Regions from separate parts of the Homo sapiens genome. Here region 2 is linked to region 1. The links come from fine-mapping of genetic effects on gene expression. A gene starts in region 1. The other region holds a variant in brackets. All regions are shown on one strand. Distances are between the middles of the regions. Region 1 holds the start of BTG1 (BTG anti-proliferation factor 1). Region 2 overlaps LINC01619 (long intergenic non-protein coding RNA 1619).

Region 1 (16,025 bases):
GAAAATAGCTCTGAAAACCACAATGTTAGGCACACAGCTCAGGAAAGCTCTATAAAATAAGATGCAAGGCCTGTGTTGTCTATTTCCATCCTTCACAATGGAAAAGCAGTTCATTTTCCTTCCTATATTATTGTATTTCAAAAACGCAAGTACATTTCTTGCAGCTATAGGCTAAAGCAATCTTTCAAGAAACTCCTAACAATCATACTATGATCAAATTGTTAAAACACACACACACACACACACACACAAGAAAACAATCAGCTATATTTTGTTGGCCTCCATGATAGAGTATTCAAATTCCAAGAATCCAAACATTCACTAGCTATATGATTTCATGTTTACCTTGACAACAAATGACTTGTCTCCATTATTACACAAGGAATGATGGGCTCAGAGAGGCTAAGCAACTGGTCCAAAGTCACAAGTTGGTACAAGTCAAGATTTCAACTTATTGGTCTGAGTCCCAGACTAGTATTCTTTATGCTAAATTCCAACTGCCTCTCAAAGAAAGGAGCCTAATTGTAGACTGCTATATGCCTCCGGAACATAGTGAAAGAGTTTCAAGGCTGAAAATAACCAAAGATGGCCAACTCACAATGAGAAGTTAAAATACATGTTCCAACAGTGTAAAAGAAGGTAGATAAATCATGCATCACAATGTAACAATAGTTAAGAGTTTGGATTCTGTGATCAGAAAAGCCTGAATTCAAATTGTGAATTAGCTGTTTACGAGCTGTCTGGCTTTAGGGTAAATTACTTAAGCTCTCTAAGCCTCAGTTTTCTATCCATAAAATGAAGATAAAAAATACTGACCCACTTGCCAACCTCATCCAGTTGTTGGAAGGTCAAATTAGAATATATATTGATAACTTGAAGACTCACAAGTACAATTTGTGGGAAATACAACTCCATTTAGTCTACTGACTTGGGACAAAACTGCCATAAATCAAGACAACTACTAGAAAGTGTACTCAAATCTGCTCATAAAGCAATTGTCAAGTCTAATCATTTTATGGCTTATGGTCATTTATGGAATCTTCTCAAATAAAGTCCAATTTGTTAGTCATCTTTTCCTTCAAAAATTTAGGGATGGCTCAGAACAAGAGGGAAAAGATACAGGGCCTTTCTTGCTAAGCCATAACTACTAAAATAATTAAATCACCCATCTACAACTTCGATAATTCAGTTCTCTTACAACCATGCATATCAATGTTACAAAGACCCTAAGATTTAAAAAAAAACTTCTGAGAAACAAAAATGTGAATTTCAACACACAGCAACACATAGTTGAATATATGGGAACATAGATTTCAAATTGGTGTAACACAATTTGGATATCTGTTGGCTGTAAAGGATGACTTAGTTTTATTATTATAAAGACTTATGCAAATAAGTTAAACTTATACAAGGCAATCCTCTTTGTATTGCTACACTAACTTGTCATTTTAAGACTTACCACTTAAAGAACATAATTATGAGTTATTTTGGGGAGAGCAAATATTCATCTACTTTAGTGAAAACCTAAAGAAATAGTCTCTAAATGTTTCTGATCATGCATCCTATCAACAAAATTTTTAGTGTATGTCAAATATATGTATATTTGTTTAGAAAATGTGCCACATGCTTTTGCATGCACACATGAAAATACATACAAAAATATTCTAAAAGAATGACAAAATAACTTTGGAGATGACCATCTAGAGAATCACTAAAAGTAAATGTACTCACGGGTGAAGTATCTCCTATTAATGCTACAATTTGAAATTATACATAGTGTTTGATGTAATATTCTCCAAATACAGGGATCCAGTTAACTATAATGGTACTAATGTGATGTTATATGTCTGGCCTACACTTGGTCATTTTTCTACCACCAGGAATGAGTCACAAATGGCCTTCACAACTTAAAGGTACAAGAAAAGAGGCTATAATCAAGTGGTTTGTAACAAGACACCTTTAAAAATAGTCTCCCTTTAGAAAATACTGAGACATTTGTGCTTTCCATCCACACCTCCCCCAAAACCAGTTCCCATGAAGTTCCACCTGTACTACCACTTTCACCTGCATGTTCACAGAAACAAATTGAATGCAGAGTCTCCCTGACGATTCATGAACTGCAGAATCCCCAGAGTAGAGATTCCTAAACTCTGCCAAGAGACTGTGCTGTGCAAACCTCTCGATACACAACTATGACCATAGCAAATGAATTTTTATCACCAAACCTTGCAATTCCTTCTCAGTTTAGCTTCCCAGTTTTCATTTTCCCCATCCTTTCCCTTTTTATCCAACTCTAGATTCAAATCATTTCACCTTTGAGCATCAGTACTCTCTTCTAAGCATACGTAATTCCCAAAAGAACACTGCATCTTCAATACTAAAATGATAAATACCATGAAAAGGCTCATAAATAACAGTCAGAAGTTGAACTACATTTTTTTATTCCTATCTTGGACATACTGAGCAATACGAAAAGTGATAAGCCAAGTTAAACCTGCAGTCAAAAAAAAACTGGTGTCAATCATACTCCACAAAGTGTTGAGGAAATGGTATCAATCCTCAGGATTAATACAATCTAAGGCTTACTTGTTTAGGAGCATTTCAAAAATATAACACTTAACATCAGAAGAAAATGATCTATAGGGATAAAGAAAATAAAGATCTATAGGCATAACCAGAAATCAGATCTCATAATGTACAGATTTCTCTATTTACAGTCCCATATATTAAATGATTTAAGGACTCAGTTAAGCAGCTGGGTCGGCTGGTATTACAAACTATCTTACTGTAAAAGATTTTGTGATACTGTTATATTAGTTCCAAATATGAAAATAAACCGGTTATATTTTGATAGCAGCCATATATAAAAGTTCAGTGGCAGAGACTGAGAGATAAGTCTAAAATGTTGGCAGTCTGTATACCTTCAGATAAATAAGAAATCTATTCAGTTTTAGACAATCCAAGATATACTTTTTGAAGACTTCCATGCATAGATAAAACTATTGACAAATGTTCTCCATATAGCCTATCAAGAGGATTTTATCACATCATTTGAAATAGGGGTGAAAAGGGGAGAGGAAGTATCTTTAAACTTCAATATGCAAAGTACAACTTCAGTTATCATACCTCTCTTCTGTAAAGAGGAAGAAGAGAGAGTATCAGAAATGTTAAAAGTCACGCAGGGAGAAGTCCAATAGTAGATTTATTTGCTCCCAAGATTAAAGGGAGCCTGGAAACCTGTAGTCATTAAACACTAGCCATCGGGAATACGGCTTCCTTCCTTTTAACTTGAAGGCCAATTTCATAAACTGCAACACCTATACAAAACAAAATTAATTACTTGCAATGTGTGAGTTATAATGACTTAAGGAAACTATTTGTGCAATGTACCTGAAAGCCACTTTCTGGTGGCCTTTCCAGTCTATTATTATAGAAATATTGCACATAAGGATAAAGACATGAGATTCCCATTCCAGATGACAAAGATAACAGCCGCATTATCCTGCATGAACCAGGGTAACTCTTGCTATACAATCCACTTGAAGCCTTGTTTCAACATTACAGAGGGAGGCACTACTTAAATTTGGAAAAAAGGAAATAATTTCAAAACTACCTGTTAAAACTTAGAAAGTAACACTCCTCAAACTTACTGCCAATCACAACTATGAATTCCTGGTGCCAAAGGCAACAATAATTTTGAAAGTAGTCATCCTATCTTAAAAGGATTTATAATAAAATATTTCAAAACATTCCCCAGAAACAGTGAACAAGAAATACATCACAAACAGCTACTGTACCGCAGATACAGGTTCAGCTCAATTGTCTGGGGAAGGTAAGGTTAAAGTCACAGGAAACAGCTGGTCTCAGAGTGATGTGTGCAAGCCTTTTTCAAAGACAAACTTATAAACAGCTCCTCACAAGCCAGACATCACCTGAATTCTAAAATAAACATTTTTATTAACTGTTTCCATCATTTTCAAAGATTGAAAAAGTCTGATGTCAAGATCTTCAAAAACAACTTTCCATTTGAAAAAAGGCTTTATGATAAAAAAAAAAAATGGTTGAGGTACTTAGTTTCAATGGAGTTACCAGATGAAATGTAGTTGGTAAACAACAGTAGTCAGCACTGGGGTGAGACCCATTTAAAAACAACCCTACCTGGTGTTTTTATTGTAATTCAAGTTTGAAATACCGAGGAGCTTTTTCACAGAATAGGTTTAAAAATAAAACCATAACAATTGGCAAGGGTAGTCCATGTGTTGCGGGTCTACGAATTCTAACTCTCGAGAATGGTGTGCCAATAATATCCACAGACATTTGTACTCTAAATACCTGCATATTCAGTGGCCTATTCCTGTGTTGTCTACAAAATCAGAATAATTTATTCCTGGGTGTAGAAATAACTTCTTAAAAGTTATTTGAGATTACTAATTTCAAGTAATTACTAATTTTATTTCAGACTGCGTATTTCCAGTGTCAACATGTTTACATATATACCAAAAAAAGGCCACTATATGTTAACTGTGTAGAGCAAAATTCAATTTTTCCACTTTCAATTTCCACTGAAAAACGCTGTTATCCTCTACAACTAAACAGCAAGTCCTTCTATTATATGGGGTAGTGAAGTAATCTACACTACAGCATTATCAAGGTTCACTTAGGTTTTTAGTATTTATCTGAAATAAAAGTCTGAAAATGAGGAATCGAGAAAGTCAGCATTTCAACTTTTGAGAATAAAAGTTCATAAACATACCTTTTGTTGAATTCCAGCTTATGTGATTTTTATGTACATCTTGCAGGTGATGAAAAGCAAAAAGCAACCAATCTCTCTGTGGTGTTTAGCCTGTTCTTTAAGACTATGGGTCACCTGCCCCGGGGAAATTTCTAATTGAACAAAGAATCCATGGGGCAAAGTAATTGTTTTTCAAAGGTGGGTCAGAATGGAACATTTATATCTTCACTTCAACAGGGAAGCAATGAAATGTAATCCTTTGAGTATCACATTTTTGGTAGATGCTACCGTGGTCTCTTATCCTTATTTCATGAGATCATTAGCCTGTGAATGTGTCCATGTTTTGACTTTAGAAATTTTTAAAACATGCTACTCCTGTGTTTCCTGTAAAACCTAAACATGTATATACAGAGCATCTTCATTCCTCATCAAATGTTTTTCCAGCATGACCAGTGTGCAACAGAGATTCAGTTTATAGAACCTGTCTTCTAAGAAAAAATACTTTTAGCTAAACCTCTATAATCATGACAAGAGATTGATTAAAATGCCAAGATAAGAAACGATTTATTATAGAGAGAAGAAAAATTTCTCATCCAAAATATAGAAATCTGTACAACTTTGCCACAATCAATATACATGAACTGTACAAATTTACACCAGTTCATAATTTACCAAATAAAAGATGACTAACAAAGTTCACAAAATAGATGGTGGTTTGTGGAAAAGACTTTTACCCAATTAAGTACAAGGAAAGTTACAAACCAGACCTCCACTTTCTAAAAATAAGAAGTTTACTCAGTCTTAGAAAACTACAAGCTAGCAAATGTACAGAGAGCTGGCTGGTGCTAACACCACAGTTGAGACAGTGTCTTTTTAAGGGTCTTTTTTAAAGCCTGTTGCCATGGCAGATTCTGGTCACTTGCTACTTTCAAGGCCAAAAACACAATACAAGGTCTGACCATTTCCCCAGGTCATGCTTACTAGTTTGTCTTTATGTACATTTATACATATTTAAGTGCTAGGTAAAAGTCTTGTAAAATTTCCAGTACTACCATGTTTAAAACGTTTAACTTTCCTATTAAAAGCTGCCGAAAAGGTTAACAATAACAACTTTCAAGTGTAATAGTGCAAATTCCCCTGCGAGATTTACTGCAGAGAAAGATTCTTTGAAATACAGATTTTCTTTAAAAGGATTGATGTAAAAATTTAGGTATGTCTGGGAGAAACTGAAACCACCCTAGGACTTCCCTCCCTAGCAAATAAAGTGATCATTTACTTGGACTCACAGGCTATTAAAATTAATCATTGAAAGGTACTGTCCAAACTATGGCACTGTCACTTAAAATTTTTTTTTTTTTTACCATTCTATCTTGTGCCAGATCTTCACAGCTGTGACATGGTTTAAATTCCATAATCCATCCCCAAGAGGAGCCCACCCAAAGCAAAAATCAAATTTATCCATCATCATCAGATGATCCATCCACAGACTATATCTTAACCTGATACAGTCATCATATTGTAGTTTTTGGAAGGGCTCGTTCTGCCCAAGAGAAGTTCCTCCTTACAGCTGATTCGGCTGTCTACCATTTGCACGTTGGTGCTGTTTTGAGTGCTACCTCCTGCTGGTGAGGCTTCATACAGCACACAGATGGAGCCATCCTCTCCAATTCTGTAGGACACTTCATAGGGGTCAACCCAGAGTGTGAGTTCACTTGGGAGAAGCCTGAACAGCTCCTGACTGCTCAGTCCAATCCGCTGTGCTGCCTGTCCAATCAGAGGATCCATTTTATGGTTGATGCGAATACAACGGTAACCCGATCCCTTGCATGGCTTTTCTGGGAACCAGTGATGTTTATAATGTTCTATAGAAGAAAAGAAGAACAGAGAAACAACGCTTAGGATCGTTAGCTCCCACTGCGGATTCCTCCTACCCCAGGCTCCTTTGAGGAGCGAAAATGAAAACTATCAACTTTTTAAAATGTCCAGGATTGCATCCGTTGTTGTGCATGTGCGGGGATGGAAAAAGCGGGCAGGGTTTTAGAAATAACACAGTAGTACCGGACAAAACAATCTCCAGGAACCAACCGGTTGAGCCGCCAAAACAGGAATCAGGCGCGCAGCCTCGGCCAGTCGGGAAGCCACTGGCACCTATGGCCAGGCGAGAAACTGTTTACTTTCTCCACCCCACCCCAGATGCACACAATGGAGTTGATGGCTTTGGAGATGAGAAGCGCCACCGGACTGTTAACCCCGAAGGGAAGAAAAACAAGCAACCCTAAACCACGCTCTGGGCAGGGCTGTTAATTGTGCCGGTGACAAATCCGATGATTAATGGGCAGGGGCAGGAGGCGCGGGGAGACGGCACGTCCGTTCTGAGCTGGCTCCGGGGCAGCGGCGCAGCTTCCCACCCCGGGGCTGGGCCGCCGACCACGCAACGGTTGGAGGGGGCTGAGGAAAGGGGACGTCGAACCCACCCCAGCCCCACGGCTCCTTTGTCCCCAAATCCGCCGACGGTCCTCGGACCGCAGCTCCCGCCTCGGTGGGCTTAAGTTTCTTTGTTGTGCGTGTTGTCTTCTCCTCTCCGTTTTGCCAGCTGGGGGGAAGGGGGCGCCCTCCGTCCAGCCCCTAAAGCCTCGCGGGGAACCGCTGTTAGCGGCCACCCAGCGCAACCACACCGGTCCCGCGGCGGGGCCCAAGCGCGACCGGCCCCGGGGCGCTGCCGAGGTTCCCGCAGCCCCGACGGCCGGACTCTGACCCAGGGATGTGGGGCCCGCGTCCCTCCGACGCCCTCGCCCTGCTCACCTGCCAGCAGCTCCTGCAGGCTCTGGCTGAAGGTCTGCAGCTGTCGCTCGCTCGTGAGCCCCTTGGTGCGGAGAAACTTGGAGATGAAGGACACGGCGGCGGCGATCTCGCCTATCATGGTGGCGGCCCGGGTGTAGAAGGGATGCATGGGGGCGGCGTGCGGGGGCGGCCCGGGGCGGCTGGGGCTCGGCGGCGCGGCCCCGACGGCGGAGCAGCCACCCCGGGCTTCCTCACCGGGCGGAAGGCTGAGAGGAAGAGAGGGCGTGAGGGGCGGACGACTACTTTTGTCTTTCTTTCTTTAGACTAAAAAAGTTATTTTCGAGACAGGAGGCGGCAGGAGAGAGGAAGAGACGAGCGATGGCGGCCTGGTCACATCGCTCGGACCTCCCCAGCTGCCTCCGCCTCCAGCTCCGCAGCATTCGAAGATCTCAATAGCTGCATTTCCAGCTCCGAGAGGCGAAGAGATGCAAGCGCCGTGCAGCACCCTTTATAGTGCCACGAAAAGGAAGTGGCGTAGCTGGAGCGTGATGGCCGACTCCAGCCAATCCGAATATCGCACCATTGTGACGCAAGCCGGTTCGGAGCCGAAAGGGGCGGGAAAAGAGTTCAGGAGGCGGGTCCAGAGATAGGGAAGAGAGGGAGGAGCTGACGTAATCCGCTTGTAAACAAATAAACCCGGAGTGGCGGCTGGAGACCCAGTTGCTTGTGTCGAGGGAGGGAGGGAGGGAACAGAGGGTGCGCGTGTGAAAGCTCCGCCCCCAGCCCTAGCTCCTCCTTCCCGCTTCAGCAGGTCCAGGCTCTGCGCCAGTGCATCCTTCTCCAAGAGTGCGCTGCCTGGGCCCGCTTGCCCTGGAGTGTAAGTGCTGGGTAAATAAGAACCGCCTGGCGCAGGCTGTGTCTACTCTTCACGCCGCCTTCTCAGATCGGGCTGCATGTCCCCACTCCGTGTTTACATCTCGTTCCCGCTCCGGGTCTCGGTGACTGGCTCCTCAAGCCGGAGACGCGTGTGGTGCGGCGCGATGCGGGCGCCAGCGCTGTGTGTGCTGGCGGTGCGCTGCCTTAGTGCGGGGGAAAGTGGAGGGAACGGTCCTGCGGGGCGTTCTGTCCAAGAAAAAGGACTGCAGCCTCGGGGAGCCAGGGTCCCCTCGCAGACGAGCTGCCAACGCCGCGGAGCCATTTCTGTTCCACCCTAGGGGAGGAGTAGGGGGATATCTTTTAAAAGTTTAATTGCAAAATAAGTAGGTTAGTAAGGCCATTTGTGGTTGCTGTTTCAGTAACTTCAGCAGTCAACGGAGAGAAGAGTGGAAACCTTACTGGATGCGGACAGGAGAGCCAGTTACTGAAAGCAGATATAACGCGGATCCTGTAAAGAGTGGTGTGTATCCAAAAAAAAAAAATCTGTACAATGTATTTTAAAACTTGTGTGCACAAAACTGAAGATTTTCTTTTTTACCTAGTCCAAATGCCGTCCTAGCCTGAGTCCTGCTCTTTATAAAAATAAAATAAAAAGAATTTGAAGCTTGTGAAAGTATTAAGTGTAGACATTCAAGTTTATTTGAAACCCTACCAAAAAAAAAAAAAAACAACCTTAAAAACCAGTGTAACAGGAAGGCGGGAGCCTGCTAAAACGATTAGGCCTAAGACAGGGTTAACCCCAACTCCATTAAGGAGAAGGGGGAAAAGAAAAAAAGAAAGATGAAGGGAGGCAGGCAGATGGAGAAAGCAAACAGGAGGCAGAAGTTGAACTCTACCAGATGGAAATAAATATCCCGACCTTAGTTGATCATCAATATTGCAAAACACACCACTTTGAGTGTTTTTTTTTTCTTTTTAATACTGAGCTAAAGGATATAGAAATGAAGCAAAAATAATGACATTATAAAACAGGAGAAAACGTTTTATTGTTTAAAAAATATGTAAAACTCGATTTGAAAAAATAACTTCTAGATTATTTTTTCATTAGTACACATAACTAAGTAGTTACATGTGAAAAAATTAAAGAGTGGTTTTTTTTTTTCTTATAGAACTTTTCAGATAGAACTCTGCTTAAAAATAGTAATTTCACTGGAGGCATGAAACCTCTTTTACTACTCAAAAAGAAGATCGAGAAGCAAAAGTAAATTCATGAAATTACCATAACACTAGAATAACAACTCCTGGTCTCCCACCTAACCTGACCCACCCTTAGTTCCCTGCTTTCACTTACATTGTCGTTAATGTGTCACTGAGTACAAATTAGGAGTCAAGTGAAAGTTTTTCTCTTCTAAACCTGGTCTCCAACTTGGCCTCTCGGTCATGTGCTTAAATTGTCTCATCTAAAAAACAGAAATATTAAATCAACAAAATGCTAGGATTGGACTCAGACTTCCCCCAAGCCCTTGTTCTCCATACTATTTTTAACTGCCTGCACTAGCAGCAGCAGGACCCCTTCTGAAAGCCTTATAAAACCAGTTGAACAGGGTTAACAGAAAGTTTAACCCATAGACTCAGGGAGAGTTACTTCCCGCACTGAGTTTTTCAAATTATATATGTGTGTTTCCCACCTTAAATCATCCCATTAGGAGACAAACTGATTTGAGAAACTACAGTAATTTTTAACTTGGGAATCTACAGAGTACTCAGAAAAAAACTGGAAATAAACATTAGTCTTAAACGTAAGCCTTAGATGGTACATAATGTTCATTGCTAATAGTTTTCAATTCCTGACATATATATGTTTAGTCACATTTTCTGGAAGTTTAGTCAGGCCCTTCCCATCTGGGAAACAAGCAGGTATTTCTGGACAGCTTTTGAATTACAAAGGTGCTTTCTGTGTTGTTGTGCTAAGTTTACCAAGGCTCTCCCAAGTACTTTATTATTATCATGCAATTTGATAGTAATTTATGAAATTTTTTTTTTTTTTTTTTGAGATAGAGTCTCGCTCAGTCACCCAGGCTGGAGTGCAGTGGCGCGATCTTGGCTCACTGCAGCCACCGACTCCCAGGTTTAAGTGATTCTCCTGCCTCAGCCTCCCGAGTAGCTGGGATTACAGGCATGCACCACCACGCCTGGCTAAATTTTGTATTTTTAGTAGAGATGGGGTTTCACCATGTTGGCCAGGCTGGTCTCAAACTCCTGATCTCAGGTGATCCACCCGCCTCGGCCTCTCAAAGTTTAGGGATTACAGGCGTGGGCCACCACGCCTGGCCTGTCTAATTAATTTCTAAAACTTAGAACATTTCTAATCAAAGTATTAAAAATCTTAGGAATGCTGTCAAAACAAATTCAAAAAATGAACCTGGGTTTTAAAATAAGTTGACAAATAAAAGCACAAATATTAGATATTGTTTCCCCAGTTGGACCCGCCCTTTCCCTGAAGGCACATTAGGGCCAGGGCCTTCCAGACTGAGCCAGAGGCAACCTGCCTGTTGCTAGTCAGCTAGCTGCAGTCACTAAAGTTGTGCTTATTACGCACCTACTTCCAGATAGAGTGCTAGGTGTCTAGAAAACTCACAACTTAACCAATAAGTACAGAGTCAAGTGAGAGTTCTTGAGAGAGTGTTAATGGCAAATAGAGACAGGGCACTTATTTATTTGTGTGTTGCGGGGCAGAGGGAAAATAAGAAAACCCCAAAAGTGAATGATCTCAGCTAAGCCAATGAAAGTGACCCAAGATTAGTTCTCCTTGGAGGAAAGGAACGGGCTTGATCTTGGAGTATCTCAAAGGCATAAACCAAGGAGGATAAGTATTGTTGAAAAAACTGGTAGATGGAGGCAGGCATAGGGTACTTGAGAGTACTCTTGAGAGTGTTTTTAGCAGACAGATTATATGATCAGATTTATCTTTAAATAAGTTAGCTTTTCTTGTGGGCTTATGTCTTCAACTAGATACCTATGCCTCTTATTTATCTATTTTTTTGTTACCCGCAGAAAGGAGAAGACCACTTTTAGTTGCCTCCCTGCTAGCACCCTGACTTGCTCTGCTTGAATAAGAATCCAAGGACACAAGCTAAGACATTTGCACTGGGTTTAGATCTACTGCGATTCACAAAACACAAAAGAACTTTCAGTCAGAGGGTGACACATAATGATTTTAGACAAAACTCAGTTTCTTCTGGTGGAAGCTATTCAGATTGTTTGGAGAGTGGGAGGAAAAAGGAGTGAAGCATCGCTTAACAACAAAAGTAATAATGCAGGTTATTATCATTTTATCATTAACAATGCATCAGTGCTAAGTGTTTTACATGCTTTCTATCTCTCTCTTTTTATTTATTTATTTATTTATTTTTTTTTTTGAGACTCACTCTGTTGCCCAGGCTGGAGTGTGGCGGTGCGATCACAGCTCACTGCAACCTCCGCCTCCTGGGCTCAAGCTTATCTTTCCACTCAGCTTCCTGAATAGCTGGGACTTCAGGCACGTTCCACCACGCCTGGCTAATTTTTGAATTTTTTGGTAGAGACGGGGTTTCACCATGTTGCCCAGGCTGGTTTTGAACTCCTGGGCTCAAGCGATTCACTCACCTCAGCCTCCCAAAGTGCTGGAATTGCAGGCATGAGCCACCGCACCCAGCCATGCTTTCCCATTTAATTCTCTAAGAAACCCAATCGAGTGAGTATAGTTGACAGCATTTAACATATAAGAATACAGTCTTAAAGAAAATAAGTAATTTACCCAAGGTTTTACAGCCAGATTTGAACTCTCAAGTCATGGACTACAAAATTTGAGCTCTAAATACCTGGTAGGGTTTTCAAGGGAGCTCCTGATATTACCTTTCCTAAAAAGGACCTTGAGAAATAAAACCTGATAAAGTTAGAAGACCATCTGGAGATGAGTAGAGATAGTAGTAGGAAAAAAAAAATCAAAACTCAAGGCAGCTGAGGGGACATCTCATAGCTGACATAATCTGTAAGATACAGCTACATTTATTAAAAGGCCCACTGGAAAATGAAACAAGGAACATATTAAAATGTTAATCTGCCAAATAATTTAACTGGAATGAAAATTATCCCTAGGTACAGATAAGAGAAAGTAGCAAAAGTGCTTTCTATTTAAGACCATTTAAACTTTTCATTTCCCCTTTGGCCTAAATTGACAAAAGGAACCAGGGGCCTGGTCAGTTCCACAATCTCTCTTGCCCAGCAACTGAGGCGGGCCCTGGAGGGTTCGGTGGGGGAGGTGGGAGGGCAGCAAGGAGGGATGGTTTTGTGTCCAGGTCACTGTTGAATCTGATCAGTGGCCTCCGGGAATTCTCACTCAACTTTCTACTGCATAGCTGCAGGGCCATTTCTCAAAGCTGGGCTCCTCCCCAAACCTTCTCCTTCCTGGTGCCAGAACCTCCTGGCCTATCTCTTTTTAAAGCTCTCACCGTCTATATTGTCACCGGAGGCAACCACGTGGTGGTCAGGGTTACTGAGTGTTTATCTGCACCCCCCAGCTGCCAAAGACCTCTTCAATTTTAAGGTTTAACAGTAGACAGCCGGGCGCGGTGGCTCACGCATGTAATCCCAGCACTTTGGGAGGCCGAGGCGGGCAGATCACGAGGTCAGGAGATTGAGACCATTCTGGCTAACACAGTGAAACCCCGTCTCTACTAAAAATATAAAAAAATTAGCCGGGCGTGGTGGCGGGCGCCTGTAGTCCCAGCTACTGGGGAGGCTGAGGCAGGAGAGTGGCGTGAACCCGGGAGGTGGAGCTTGCAGTGAGCCGAGATCGCGTCACTGCACTCCAGCCTGGGCGACAGAGCGAGACTCCCTCTCAAATAAAACAAAACAAACAAACAAACAAAAAACAGTAGAGTGGGGAAAGAGTTAATAAGAATTAACTCTGGAACATTGGAAACTTTGAAAAATCGTACAAAGTTCTTACAAATTATGATCCTGGAGTATAGTATTTATAACTTTCTGAAGGGGGAAGTGGGGTACATGGACCTCCCCTTCCTTGTATTCATTTAGTTTTTGAAACAGGGTCTCTCACTCTGTCACCTAGGCTGGAGTGCAATGGCAGGATCACAGCTCACAGCAGCCTCTACCTCTCGGGCTCAAGTTATGCACGGCCACTCCCCCCACCCCTACCCCGCAGCCTTGCCCATCTCAGCCTCCTGAGTAGCTGGGACTACAGGTGCGCGCTACCATGCCCAGCTAATTTTTTTGGTTTTTGTAGAGACAGGGTTTCCCTATGTTGCCCAGGCTGGTCTTGAACTCGTGGGCTCAAGCGATCCTCCCTCCTCAGCCTCCCAAAGTGCTAGGATTACAGGCGTGAGCCACTACGTTCAGCCTCCCCTTTCCCTTAAACTAATGAAGCAAGGGATTGGGACTTCTCACTGGTTCTCCCAATGTGTTCCCCAAACCAGCAGCATCAGAGTCTTCCTGGGAACTTGATAGGAATGCAAAATTTTGCCTTCATTCTAAACCTGTGAATTAAAAACTCTGGGGATAGGGTACTGTCTAGGTACTAATGTTGGAGAACCATTGCTGTGAAAAAGTAATGGCAAAATTCTGTAATTAAAAACAACACTGAAGAGATACCTGCACTTCCATGCTTATTGCAGTACTATTCACAATAGCCAATATATGGAATCAACCTAAATGCCCATCAGTGGATGAATGGATAAAGAAAATGTGGAATATATACACAATGAAATATTCAGCCATTAATAAAAGCATGAAATCCTGTCATTTGCAGCAACTTGAATGGAACTGGAGGTCATTATGTTAAATAAAATAAGCCTCCTTTTTCCTGTGCTGGAAAAACAAAATAATTTTAGAACAATTGAAGAAAAATAAGCCAAGCACAGAAAGACAAATATTGCGTGTTCTCACTCATATTGGGAGCTTAAAAAGTGGATCTCATGGGGATGGAGAGTAGATTGATGGCTAGATGGCTACTAGATGCGGAGAAGGCTAGGTAGGAGAAGGGATGAAAAGAGATTCACTAATGGGTACAAAATACAATTAAATAGAAGATTTACTATCTAGCATTTGATAAATCAATACAGTGACTATATTAAATAGTAATCTATTTTATATTTCAAAATAGCTATTAGAGAATAATTTGAATGTTCTCAGTATAAAGAAAAGATAACTGTGTAATGTGATGGATGCCCCAATTACCCCAGTTTGATTATTACCTATTATATGAATGTGTCACAATATCACATGTACCCTGAAAATATGTACATCTATTAGGTATCAATAAAAATAACCTGGCCAGGCACGGTGGCTCACGCCTGTAATCCCAGCACTGTGGGAGGCTGAGGCGGGCAGATCACGAGGTCAGGAGATCGAGACCATCCTGGCTAACACTGTGAAACCCGTCTCTACTAAAAATACAAATAAAAAATTAGCTGGGTGTGGTGGCAGGCACCTGTAATCTCAGCTACTTGGGAGGCTGAGGCAGGAGAATGGTGTGAACCCAGGAGGCGGAGCTTGCAGTAAGCCAAGATTGTGCCACTGCACTCCAGCCTGGGCGACAGAGCAAGACTCCATCTCAAAAAAAACAAAAAACAAAAAAAAAAACCTCACTTTTTTTCAGGTATATACCATATCCAATAGAAATCTTTTTCCTTAAAAGAAAAAGCACATCAATTGAATAGGTAAAAGCTGCCTTTAAAATGAACTAAGTTTTCAGTGAGTTATTTGCTTCCTTTAGGTTCTATAGTCTGGGTAAACTCCATTCTTCCCAGTTTCTGAGACAATAAGCAAGCCACAGCTACTCTTGTCCAGTAATGGTGTTCACATTTTGCTCTCGAGAGAGGATAATACTCAGGAAGCTTGGTAGGATACCCATATAATCAAATGTTGGCATATTCTATACTTTATTTTTACTTTTTTTTTTTTTTTGAGACGGAGTCTTGCTCTGTTGCCCAGGCTGGAGTGCAGTGGTGCAATCTCAGCTAACTGCAAGCTCCGCCTCCCGGGTTCACGCCATTCTCCTGCCTCAGCCTCCTGAGTAGCTGGGACTACAGGCGCCCGCCACCACGCCCGGCTAATTTTTGTATTTTTAGTAGAGACGGGGTTTCACCATGTTAGCCAGGATGGTCTCGATCTCCTGACCTCGTGATCTGCCTGCCTCGGCCTCCCAAAGTGCTGGGATTACAGGCGTGAGCCACTGCGCCTGGCCTATTTTTACTTTTTGTATACTTTATTTTTACTTTTTCTTTTACTTTCAAAGAAAAACAGCAGGGCTGGGCATGGAGGCTCACACCTGTCATTCCAGCACTTTGAGAGGCCAAAGCAGGAGGATAGCTTGAGGCCAAGAATTCAAGACCGCCCTGGGCAACATATTGAGAACCCCCTGTCTACAAAAAATAAAAAATTTACCTGGGGTTGGTGGTGCGTGCCTGTAAGTCCTAGCTACATGGGCCACATGGGAGGCTGAGGCAGTAGGATTGCTTGAGTCCAGGAATTTGAGGCTACAGTAAACTATGATGGTGCCACTGCACTCCAGCCTGGGCAACAAAGCAGGACCCTGTCTCTTAAAAAAAAAAAAAAAGAAGAAGAAAACAAAACAGCA
Region 2 (12,012 bases), 40 kb before region 1:
GCATGATCGGATTGGAAAAAATCGAGAGATGAATTCAAAATGGGGGTTCTCGGACAGATTCTGAGAGGAGATGGGGTAAGGAGCATGGCCAGGGCTTTTAAAGCCATTGATGCATTCATTCATTCATTAGGTATGTAGTATGTACTGCTGAGCTGGGTAGAAGGAATACAATGGTGAGCAAAGTGGTCCAGATCTCTCTATCCGTAGAGTTTACAGTACAGTGGGGAGACAATCCTTAATCAAATGGTCTCTCAAATGTGTATAATTAAGAACTGTGGACTATTTGGTACAGGAGCTGTGACAGTGACCTAGTATCTAACTGTATCACTATTAGTCTGTTCTCACACTGCTATAAAGACATACGGAGACTGGGTAATTTATAAGGGAAATAAGTTTAATGGACTCACAGTTCCACATGGCTGGGGAGGCCTCACAGTCATGGTGGAAGGTGAAGGAGGAGCAGGGGCACATCTTACATGGTGGCAGGCAAGGGAGCATGTGCAGGGGAACTGCCCTTTATGAAACCATCAGATCTCGTGAGACTTATTCACTGTCATGAGAACAGCATGGGAAAAACCCACCCCTGTGATTCAATTACCTCCCACCGGGTCCCTCCCATGACATGTGGGGATTATAGGAGCTACAATTCCCATAATCCCAAGACGGGATTTGGCTGGGGACATAGCCAAACCATATCACTGACCTAGTCTAAAGGTAGAAAATGGGGAGTGGCAGATCATGGACGGCTTCCCTGAGAAGTGATCGTGGAGTGAGATCTGGAGAATGAGTGACCATTATGCAGCTAAGTACTGCTGGAAGAAAAACCAGGGAGGGCCCTTCTGGCCATGACTATGTTGGGAGAAGGCAGGGAGGCAATCAACTGAGAGGAGGTCTGTGTAGCTGAAGCCCAAAGAGACAGGACAAAGAATAGCAGCAAATAAACTGTGGGGTGTGTCTAGGGAATGACGGGACACAGTCCTGGCTGGAAAATAACATGCATGGCAGGATACAAATTAAACTGGAAATCATGATCTGGGCCTTGCACATTCTGGAAGAATAGGCAAATTAGGCTCAAGAATTTGAATGGCATTCTCTAGGCAATAAGAAATCATTACAGGCATACAGTGACAAGGTCAACCCTGTTTAAGGATGATTGTTCTAGAAGCAATATTGAAACAGACTTTGGCAAAGTGGGAGAGTAGGGAGAGCCCTGGAAGGAAAAGACAATAATTACAGGCAATTGTAATAGCCAAGTGAGAGAGAGCAAGATCCCAAACTAGGGCAGTGGGAAATGGAAGAAATGAACAGGTATAGAGATACTGTAAAGAAGAATCAGCAAATATGAGGGTTAATTGGATATGGACATGAAGGTGATGGGGGATGTTGGGGGAGACAGAGAGAGAAACTCACAAATGAATGAAAAGGTTTGAGCCTGAACATTATGAGGAGGAGGAGAAGGAGGAACATTATGAGGAGGAGGAGGAGGCCGCCAATATCAGAGTTTGGGAATAAGAGGGTTTTGGGAGGACAAGGCAGGTGGATCAATTGAGCCCAGGAGTTTGAGACCAGCCTGGGCAACATGGCAAAACCCCATCAAAAAAAAAAAAAAGAAAAAAGAAAAGCAAGCAAGCAAGCAAGAAAGAGAAAGAAGAAAGAAAGAAAGAAAGAAAGAAAGAAAGAAAGAAAGAAAGAAAGAAAGAAAGAAAGAAAGAAAGGAAAGAAAGAAAGAAAGAAAGAAAGAAAGAAAGAAAGAAAGAAAGAAAGAAAGAAAGAAAGAAAAAGAGGAGTCAGAGGCTTTGTGTGAGATCTGTTTCAGATATGCTGTTAATGGCATCTGGGGCAGCCAAATAGCTAATTCTGATTAGTTACCATCCTTCAAAAGTTGCGTTTGGAAACATAGATATGCAGGTCAGTCAATCGACAATATTTACTGGGTGGCTACTATGTGCCAGGCATTTTTTAGCTTAATTTTACTATGTGCCAGGCATTTTTTAGCTTAACTTTACTTATGTTTATAGAAATGGGGTCTCACTCTGTCTGTCCAGGCTGGAATGCAATGATGCGATCATAGCTCACTGCAGCCTCAAACTCCTAGGTTCAAGAGATTCTCCCATCTCAGCCTCCTGGATAGCTAGGACTACAGGCACATGTCACTGTGTTGAGCCAGGCATTATTTTATACACTGAAGACAGAATTAGAAATTAGACCAAATTTCTGCCTTCATGGGGTATTTCTTGTATATAAAAGGTAGTTTAAAAAAACAAAACCCATACGGAACCAACGGTTATGTCGTTAATCCAAAAATAAGCCATAAACAAGTGATATATAAGCAAGATATCAGTTCAAAGAATTGGTCATTATCTCATATCAAATTCACAAAATACAACTTTGTGAAGGTTAAGTCTCTCTCCTTAGGAGACACATTAGAATGCAAATTCAAATCACCAACTCTCATCAAACAGCGAAGTAGACTCTACAAGCTCCTTGTGAATTTCATCCAGGAATTTAGAGGACACAGCAAAGGACAGGATAAATAATAGATTCCTATTCTCTAGAAAAGAGAAAGAGGACATACCGAAATGCCACTAGCAAGGCCACTTAGACATCTTGGCCCTTCATCAACACTCAGAGTATGTAATGAATTTCAGAAATATAAATAAACCTTCTTTGCCATTTTTACTTCCACAGAGATGCCAAAATTATATCATATGGAGCAGCAGAAGTGCAAGGGCTTTCCGGCCTAATCATTTTTGAAAATGAACAGATAATGAACAAAATATAATATACTACCTAAAATTATCTTCAGAAGGAATGAATAACAAAAGATTATAAAGCCTCAAAATAAAAACAGGATCTGAAAGCAAAAATAAATTAAATAATTTTGATTAATTTAAAAGCTAAACATCAAACAAGGGGAATACACAAACATCTGTATATCTGTATCTGCATATAAAATCAAGGCTAGAGGTTAAAATTTTAATGATAGGAGATTAAAACTAAAATGCCTGATTTGTGCAGCTTGCCAATGGTTTATTAAAAATCTGGTTTATTTAACTAACTGTTGCTAAAGTTTCATGGCAGAGTAAATGTGAATGAACAGCCAACAAAATGTTGACAAATAATTCAGTTCAAACTGGGGGAAGAGGGAGCTTAGTCAACTAGTTATCAACACTACTTCATGTATTTTTTTATTTTTTATTTTATTTATTTATTTTTTTGAGACGGCGTCTTGTTCTGTTGCCCAGGCTGGAGAGCAGTGGCATGATCTCAGCTCACTGCAACCTCCACCTCCCGGGTTCAAGTGATTCTCCTGCCTCAGACTCCTGAGTAGCTGAGATTGCAGGTGCCCGCCACCACACCTGGCTGATTTTCGCATTTTTAGTGGAGACAGGATTTCTCCATGCTGGCCAAGTTGGTCTCGAACTCCTGACCTCAAGTGATCTGCCCACCTCAGCCTCCCAAAGTGCTGGTATTACAGGCGTGAGCCACTGTGCCCAGTCTCAACACTACTGTAAATCTATAATAATTGAAAACAGTGCACATTAGGCAAGCAGATCACAGAAATGAAGAGTACAGACATAGACCCCAGTATGGGAATTCAGTAAATGAAAAAGTTTCATTTCAATCCAATTAAGAAAGAATTGGTTGAAGCCTACATAACTGGTATCAGAATAACGAGCAACTTATTTAGAAAAATAAAATATATTCTCCACAGAAAAGGAACATCTTGACTGCACTGATTTGGCCCCAAGACTTTTTTGCTCTAGTTTTATTAATACAATTTTTTAAAATAATAATTTACCAACACTGATGAATTTTCCATGAGAATTTTTTTGGGGATTAAATCAATTTTATTTTTTCTTAATCAATTTGCCATATAGCATAATTAAAACATTTCTAATTATCACCATTTCTAATTTTTGTTTGTTTTTCTTTTTCCCCATTTCTATTTTTATCTTATTAAAATTATTTTCATTAAGACCAAAATTTATTTTCATTTAAATCTTCTAATGGCTTGCAGCAAATTGTATTTTTTTGAACAAATCTTTCAGTTAAAACTTTTGCTGCTCTTAGGGAAAAACTAGTATTAGAAAAAAATAGAGGCTGGGTACGGTGGCTCACACCTGTAATCCCAGCACTTTGGGAGGCCAAGGAGGGCAGATCACGAGGTCAGGAGATTGAGACCATCCTGGCTAACACGGTGAAACCCCATCTCTACTAAAACATACAAAAAATTAGCCGGGCATGGTGGCGGGCGCCTGTAGTCCCAGCTACTTGGGAGGCTGAGATGGGAGAATGGCGTGAACCCAGGACATGGAGCTTGCAGTGAGCCGAGATCATGCCACTGCACTCCAGCCTGGGCAACAGAGCAAGACTCCATCCCCCCCCCGCCAAAAAAAAAAAGTAGATTTTTTTTATTTTTATAATCTTAGAGTAGAAAAAAACCTTTCTATCCATAACCCAAAGCCAAAGCCATAAAGGGAGTTTTCTTCTACTACCATTGTTTCTATGAAGTCAAATATTACAGATAAAAATTTGTCAAAAATATTTTATTCTGGATGTAACTAATTAATAATTTATTTTTACCATGTGCACTTGTAAATGTCAACTTTAATTTGTGTTGATTACAGAATAGTAAGGTCAAAAATCCTGTATCTGATTATTACCTTACAGTTTATACACAAATAAATTCCAGGTGGATTAGAAATTGTACAGTACAATAATCCTAAATAACAAAATATTCGAGACAAAATAAAAGCAGATTTTTTTCAAAATAACCTTGGAGTAGAAAAAGCCTTTCTATGCATAACCCAAAAAGCAAAAGCCATAAAGAAAGTTTAACAGCTTTACCCAACCCAGATCAGCTCTCATACTAACATTTTCCAAATTTTCCATGGTGGGGAATATTAGGGCTAAGCGTCAGGGTTTCTTGCTGTAAGAGAGGGTGGAAGTAAGGGGTTAATTAATAACAGATGTAGGTGGGACCACTGGATATTCAAAGATCTTTGGAAATATATGTGAGATTGGGATTCTTAAATTACTTTCAAATATTTTTATCATTACAAATGTAACACATAATCACAATTAAAATTCAAAATAAACCAACAAATTTAGCATAAAGTAAAAGTACTCATGACCCTAGAATCTACTTCGAGATAACTACTATTGACAATTCAATAAGTACCATTCCAGCTTTTTGGGTTTTTTGTTTTGTTGGTTTTTTGTTTGTTTGTTCAGCTTTTTTGTTTGTTTTCTTTTTTACTGAGACAGAGTCTCGCTCTGTCACCCAAGCTGTAGTGCGGTGGCATGATCTCGGCTCACTGCAAACTCCACCTCCTAGATTCAAGCAATTCTCCTGCCTCAGCCTCTCAAGTAGCTGGGATTACAGGTATACACCACTACACACAGCTAATTTTTTGTATTTTTTGTAAAGATGGGATTTCACCATGTTGGCTTGGCTGGTTTTGAACTCCTGACCTCAAATGATCCACCCGCCTTGGCCTCCCAAAGTGCTGGGATTATAGGTGTGAGCCACTGCGCCCAGCCATTGTTCAGCTTTTTACTTGTCCTTACATGCTGGACCACAAACCAGAAGTCCAGGTTTCTTTTAATGCAAATACAAAACACTCTTAGATACTTTCTCACATACACCTAATGTTTTTTAATAGGGTCTTATTAGACAGAATTGATCTATCTGGTTTCATTGATTGAAATACTATCTGCACATGTCTGGGCACTCTTCAGTAAGCAAAGGAAAGAAGCAATGTAGACACTGATTAGTAAGTAGAGATTACTGCTACACCAGTACTTTTAGAACCTTTTTTTAAACTTTCTTCTCTTTGATATAAAAGAAATACATGTTTCCCTTAGAAGACATAGAAAAGTACGAAGAGAAAAACAGTCACCCACAATCCACTACACAGAGCCACTGCTGTTAACTTTTGACGAAGAAAGATTCCATACTTAATAGATGCAGAATAGCTGTGGCCAACAATCTTGCAAAAGCTGGAGTTCAAAAAGAAGGTCCCAGCACCGTAAGATACAGTGGAGTCAGTAGAAAGTCATACGACCACACTCCCAGTAACCTCTGATAAATAGGATGAAGAGGAAGTAAAAAAGTGGTCAGCAACTTCTTTTGAGAAATATGCTGTTGAAATTAACAAAGGCAGAGAGCTAAGGGCAGAAAACCGGGCACCTGCTTGGGGATGGACAGATTCATTTCCGTTGGCTCAGACAAGCTTGCAACCTTGGGCTGCCAACCCAACACTGTGGATTGGCAGAGGGAGTCTGGAATGTGAAAATATCTTAATAAGAAGTTTTATCAGATCCCCTCCTTTCCCCTCAAATTTGCACTCAGGGTGCACAGACATCCCTGGAACATTTTAAACCTGAAGTATTTGTTTGAAGGTCTGCATAGGATTTGACTGTGGAGAGGCCAAGTACAGAAAGGAAGCTTTAGAAAGAACTTCAAAAATTCGTTCCATTTTAAACTAAAAAGAGGGGAAAGTGTAGAGGAAATGGTAGCACTGACAACGTTTTTCAGACAAAGGTGATGGAAACCTTGGGATTATGGACAGTTTCTCACCCATCTCAACTTATCCTCAGACTTCAGAAATGGTCAAAAAGGATGGTTTAAGCCAGGCAAAAAGCTCAAAGCAGGGATGGAACTTTTTCTGCAAAGGGCCAGCGAATATTTACTCTTCGGGCTGTGAAGCAACTCCTCATCTCCACAGCTGTTGCACAAAAGTGGTCGTAGAGAATGCACAAATGACTTGGGGTTCCAATAATGCTTCACCCCTGGACACTGACCTTTGCATTTCACAGAATTACCATATGCCACAAAATAGTCTTTTGATTTTTTTTCTGTCATTTAAAAATATTAAAACTCTCCTTAACTTTTGGCTGTACAAAAACGGTGGCAGCTGGGCGCAGTGGCTCATGCCTGGAATCCCAGCATTTTGGAAGACCAAGGCGGAAGGATCGCTTGAGTCCAGGAGTTCTCGAGGCCAGCCTGGGCAACAAAGTGAGACCCTGTCTCTACAGAACATCAAATGTATTAGCTGAGTGTGGTGGCCCAGACCTGTAGTCCTAGCTACTCGGAAGGCTGAAGCAGGAGGACTGCTTGAGCCTGGGAAGTCGAGGCTGCAGCGAGCCATGTTTGCACCACTGCACTCCAACCTGGGTGACAAAGGGAGACTCTAGCTCAAACATAAAATAAAATAAGAAGAAGGAAAAAAACAAAACAAAACAGGTGGCAAGCTGGATTTAGTTCACAGGCTGGCCTGTAGTTTGCTGACCTCTTGTCTAAAAGCAGAGATCCTGACCCAAGTTTATATTCTAACATAGATAAGGGCAAACTGAGAACAGGGAAGCATTTTAAACACGGAATATTTCTGGTAAAATGTGGGGGAGGAGGGGTCTAGATGGTGAACACACTTTTAGTGCCAGCAATTCAGCTGGGATTATAGTGGAGTTGTGGGGGGAGAGAGGTACAGAAGACAGGACGACTCCCCAAAGGAGTCCACACCCAAGGTGTCTCTCCATGGAGTTGGCCCGTAGCAGCAAGGGAGAGAGGGGTGAGAAAACGCCTCCCTATCCAATTATGCATGCTCTACTTTCCCAGTGAATCAGGCCAGTGAAATGATCAGCAGCAGCAAAGTCAAATTTAATTCAGACTTTTTTTTTTTTTTGCATAAGATGAGGCCCTACTTTGTTCCCAGTTCTCAGATCACCTCCACATTAGTAATTCCAGGAAGTCTTTGTTTACCTGTATATACAAGGCTCTTATGCAAATTCTAGCAGCCAGCAAAATAAGCCTGAGCTTGGCCTTGATGGATTTATTTCTCATTTGCTGCAGGCACAGACCACTTCTATTGAAAGGAGAAAAATACCAGCCCCTCCACAGCCGTTTGCCCAGGAGTCCCGGGCCTGCCTGGCAACGAGCCTGTTTGCCCCTTCTCCAGCTCGGGCCTGACATTACCTAGCCATTGAATAGTCTGATGGGAAGGGTTCAATGCAGGGTTTGCACTTTCCCAGCCATTAGCCAGCTGCAACGCATTTCATTAACTTAGGAGTGTTTTGTACATCAAAGAGAGCCCCAAACAGTGTGATCAAGTGGAAGTAACAGTGCCTGGTCAACATTATAACTTGCAGCTTTTTTTTTTTTCATGGATATAATGCCATCTGGCACCCAGGAACAGCAAAGGCCAGTGATGGAAAAACCCCACCACACTGTTTTGCTTATTGGTGTAACAGTTAATCCTGATAAAGGACAATGCCACAGAGCAACTGCCCTGTTATTATCTTGTATGTCTATTGTCTTACCCGGGCCAAGCTGCCCTGAACCGGCAAAAGCAAAGGTTGCACATGGAATTGCCTGGGGAAAAAATATCTAGGAGACCTGGGAAAAAGGATGTTTTGTCTTTTTGTTTGTTTAATTGTTTAGCATGTGCATCCACAAGCACACGCACATGCACACACATACACACACACGGGAAGAGAAAGGGACTTAAAGGCTTAATCTTTGCAGACTTTTTGGGGAAACATTAAGTAGCTGGCTTTGAAATCTACTAACTAGAAGTCTCTTATAACGTAACATCATTATCTTCTCCTACATATCCCCTGCTTTCGATTATTTTGAAAAATCCTTTATCGTCTCAGATTTTAGATTACAGACCACCAAGCATCCTCCAAATAACAGACTTCTAAACTGGTTTCTGGTGGAAAATTTCTCACTGAAACCTTCACTGCTCTTTTAAAATTAAGGAGAAAAAAATTCTGAAATGACAGGTAATAGAGATTCTGAATAAACTCTTCTGTAGT[G/GT]TTTTTTTGGGTAGTTTTCAACTGACAAATTAGGAAATAAAATGCTATGAATACGTTGTTTTTATTTTGACAATCTTTAAAACATAAAAGGACAAAAGCCAAATGGATAATCATCTCCCCCATAAAAGCAGGACAAATGATTGGGTTTATGGTTTTTTTTCCCACAGTTTCAAATGTCATCTCCTCAGTACAGAGACTGTTTATAAACTCTTCAGTGACTTTTTTCTGCTCATTGCACAAACTCCTCCCCTCTTCCTATCTTCCTTACTAGCCCTCCCTTCTCCACTACCAGGCCGCCTCCTCTCTGCAGGAGGGAAAGACTGAAATTTTAAGTAAGACACTTTCTTCTCTGGTGTAAATTCGCGTCAAGGGATGATTTTGCAATTGCCATATGAGCAATTATGTAAGCTTTTCAAAAGCATACAACATTTCTAGGGCAATTGTCATCTACACACAGTTATAACAATCTAGATGGTTTTAAAAATAAGTAGCTGTCACCCAATAACCAACCTGTGGTCTGAAATTTTCCCAGAAAATCCAACTGAATCTCTCTTCTTCCACTGTTTTTCTCTTCACTGTCATAAATTGTAGTAGAATTATAACATGTGTAAGAAAATGTACTAAGTTGCTATTTTAGGTTGGCATGGAAATTGAATTCAAAGAAATAAAGCCCCTAGCAGCCAGTATTAAGAAGAAAGTTCTCCAACCTTAAGTATCCTCAATACAATGACTGTTTTCTTCACTCCTTTCCCTCCCTAAGAATCAGTGAAAAAGAGACAAAATAAGCCAGAATGGAGTGTAACTGAAATTTTTGGCAGTGTGAGAAAAAAAGAGTATATGATAGCCAGCTTTCCGACATGTGGCAATCAGATATTAAAACTTGAATTATTCATTTAAAACATGCTTAATGCTTCACATTTTACAAAATGCTGTGAATCTTGCTATAGAAATAAACATTTGCTGGAAGAAAATTTCAACGGCAGATTAAGAAGCATTAAATTGAGAAGAAACATTAAATCAACTGCTCAAAGTAACTTAATTAATGAAAGAGCATGAATTCAAATCCAGGACTGACTGACTTATTTATTTATTTATTTAGTTAGTTAGTTAGTTATTGAGACAGGGTCTCACTCTGTCACCCAGGCTGTAGTGCAGTGGCATGATCTAGGTTCACCACAGCCTCCGCCTCCCAGGCTGAAATGATTCTCCCACCTCCATCCCCCAAGTAGGTGGGACCACAGGTGCATGCCACCGTGCCTGGCTAATTTTTGTACTGTTTGTAGAGACAGGGTTTCGCCATGTTGCCCAGGCTGATCTCAAACTCCTGAGCTCAAGTGATCGGCCCACCTCAGCCTCCCAAATTGCTGAGATTACAGGCATAAGCCACTGCACTCAGCCCAGGCCTTTTAACTACTAATGTATATTACTCTTGTTATGGCATGCATTCACTCACTAAGCATTAGGTAACTGCCTACCATGGACCAGACACTGTGGCAAACATTTATAAATTTTACAAGTGTAAATAAGAAGAGATTCCTGTTCTCATGGAACTCAAAATCTAAGAGTGGAGGCAGGCATTTAAACTAAGAATTACAACAGAGAGTGAAAGGTACTAAAATAAAGGGGGTAGTAAAGGTCTTCACTCTTCCTGCTTTACATTAATGTTAAAATAATGACCCACTATTGTGTTAAGTCAAATAAGCCTTTGCCCTCAAATTATCCTAGAAAAAAATCAATTACTTGTGGCATGTTTTAAATTCCACATTAGGTCTAATTTAATCTGTTGAGTGCTTCCTCTGATTACTCTGGATTTGTTGGTGCGTAATTTTAAAGTGGGGCTCTGTGGTTTCCCCATTCTCATTGTTCAGAAGAGATGTTCACTGCAGGATTTTGCTGACATGCTAACTATTTTAGCTGAAATTTGGAAAGGAGTGGGCAAAAGGAGACTAGTTTAGATGAGAAAATTACACATAATTCCTTTCCTCTCATTTTGTGAAAATCTTAGACTCACAGTTGCTAGGGATTAGAAAGAACTTTAAGCAAACACCTGTCTTCTGCAAGGTTTTTTTTTTTTTTTTTCATTTTGGAATTTAAGTCCAAGTTTTTACTTTCTAAATTGACTATTCAGTCATCATTTCTCTGTGGAATTAATTCCAGTCTTGAGCTGTTCATTGACATCTTCCCGATAGTTGTTTCAACATCTCAAATGTTCATTCTTTTTTTACTCACAACCAGGTTAAGTGTTCCCAAGGGAAAGTTAGTGACTACCTGGAGTTAGTAACTGGCTTGAGGCAAATGTGGTAAGTGGGAGAGAAATGATCAACAAATACTATGGTGCTTACTTTGAGTCTGACTTGATAGATACAGGAGACAAATGCCCGGACTGCTTGAAATTCAGTACATCTTCCAGAATTTTTAATTCAGCACCTATCAGTTTCAAACTAAGTAAAATCAACGAGATAGAGTAATATTCTTATATGATAGAATTTGTCTTCTTTTCTCTCTAAATTAGTTTTTAAAAGGAAAACAAAACTCAAACTACAATCAGTTAGGCATAATAATTTCCTATAGATCTTCCCTATTTCTCTCTCTCTCTCTCTGTGTGCGTGTGTGTGTATTTCTTTCATCTTTGTCTGTCTCTCTAGACTACAGTGTAAAACTAGAGAAAAGAGAGGCATAAAAGAAAAATAAGCAGTTGAGTCCCATTGTACATACAAAGAACATAAAATACTCTGCCATTATTATTGGTATATTGTTTTTACTGGTTTATAAAATGTTTTCTGATATACATAATAATAACATCTGCCTCACAGAGGTATTGTGAGGACTAAATATACAAGTGAAACTAAAAGATTCTACAATAGTTCCTGGCACATAAAAAGCTGTCAATAAGTGTTAGATGGTATTACTATTATTACTCATGCTAATTATTTTTATCACTGTTATTATTGTCATAGCTTGCTAACCATATACTGAAAATAGTTCAGCAAGTCCAAGTTCATATTTAGTTGATCATAACATACTTAATTTAAAAATGAAGGATTCTATTTCTAAACCCTAAATTACTATCAATACTTATTTCACTAGTGTGGGAACATTCATACTGAATTTCTTCCACAAACTAAAAAGTACAATCATACCTTAAGTATAACTTTATTTGAAGGTTTACTATAATAGATTTGCCGTTAG

What was found.
Region 2: its variant is fine-mapped to the expression of BTG1 in whole blood (INTERVAL, PIP above 0.99).

Annotation. Positions count from the first base shown.
Region 1 is chr12:92,137,854-92,153,878 of GRCh38, forward strand. It overlaps BTG1 (BTG anti-proliferation factor 1), which reads right to left and starts at 7,993. Exons shown (of 2, transcript NM_001731.3): 1 at 7,535-7,993; 2 at 2,425-6,594. The coding sequence starts at 7,682. The coding sequence ends at 6,227. It overlaps LINC01619 (long intergenic non-protein coding RNA 1619), which reads right to left and starts at 4,978. Exons shown (of 5, transcript NR_132341.1): 1 at 4,754-4,978. It overlaps BTG1-DT (BTG1 divergent transcript), which reads left to right and starts at 8,232. Exons shown (of 3, transcript NR_135036.1): 1 at 8,232-8,390; 2 at 8,809-8,909. RefSeq lists enhancers at 4,078-4,367, 6,395-6,634, 6,655-6,704, 6,965-7,014, 6,974-7,510 and 1 more and a silencer at 7,435-7,754.
Region 2 is chr12:92,099,740-92,111,751 of GRCh38, forward strand. The region is part of intron 1 of LINC01619 (long intergenic non-protein coding RNA 1619); the gene reads right to left. Among named protein-coding and RNA genes, the nearest start is that of LINC01619, 37 kb to the right of the region's middle. RefSeq lists an enhancer at 7,971-8,509. The variant G/GT (reference allele first, on the strand shown) is at 8,824.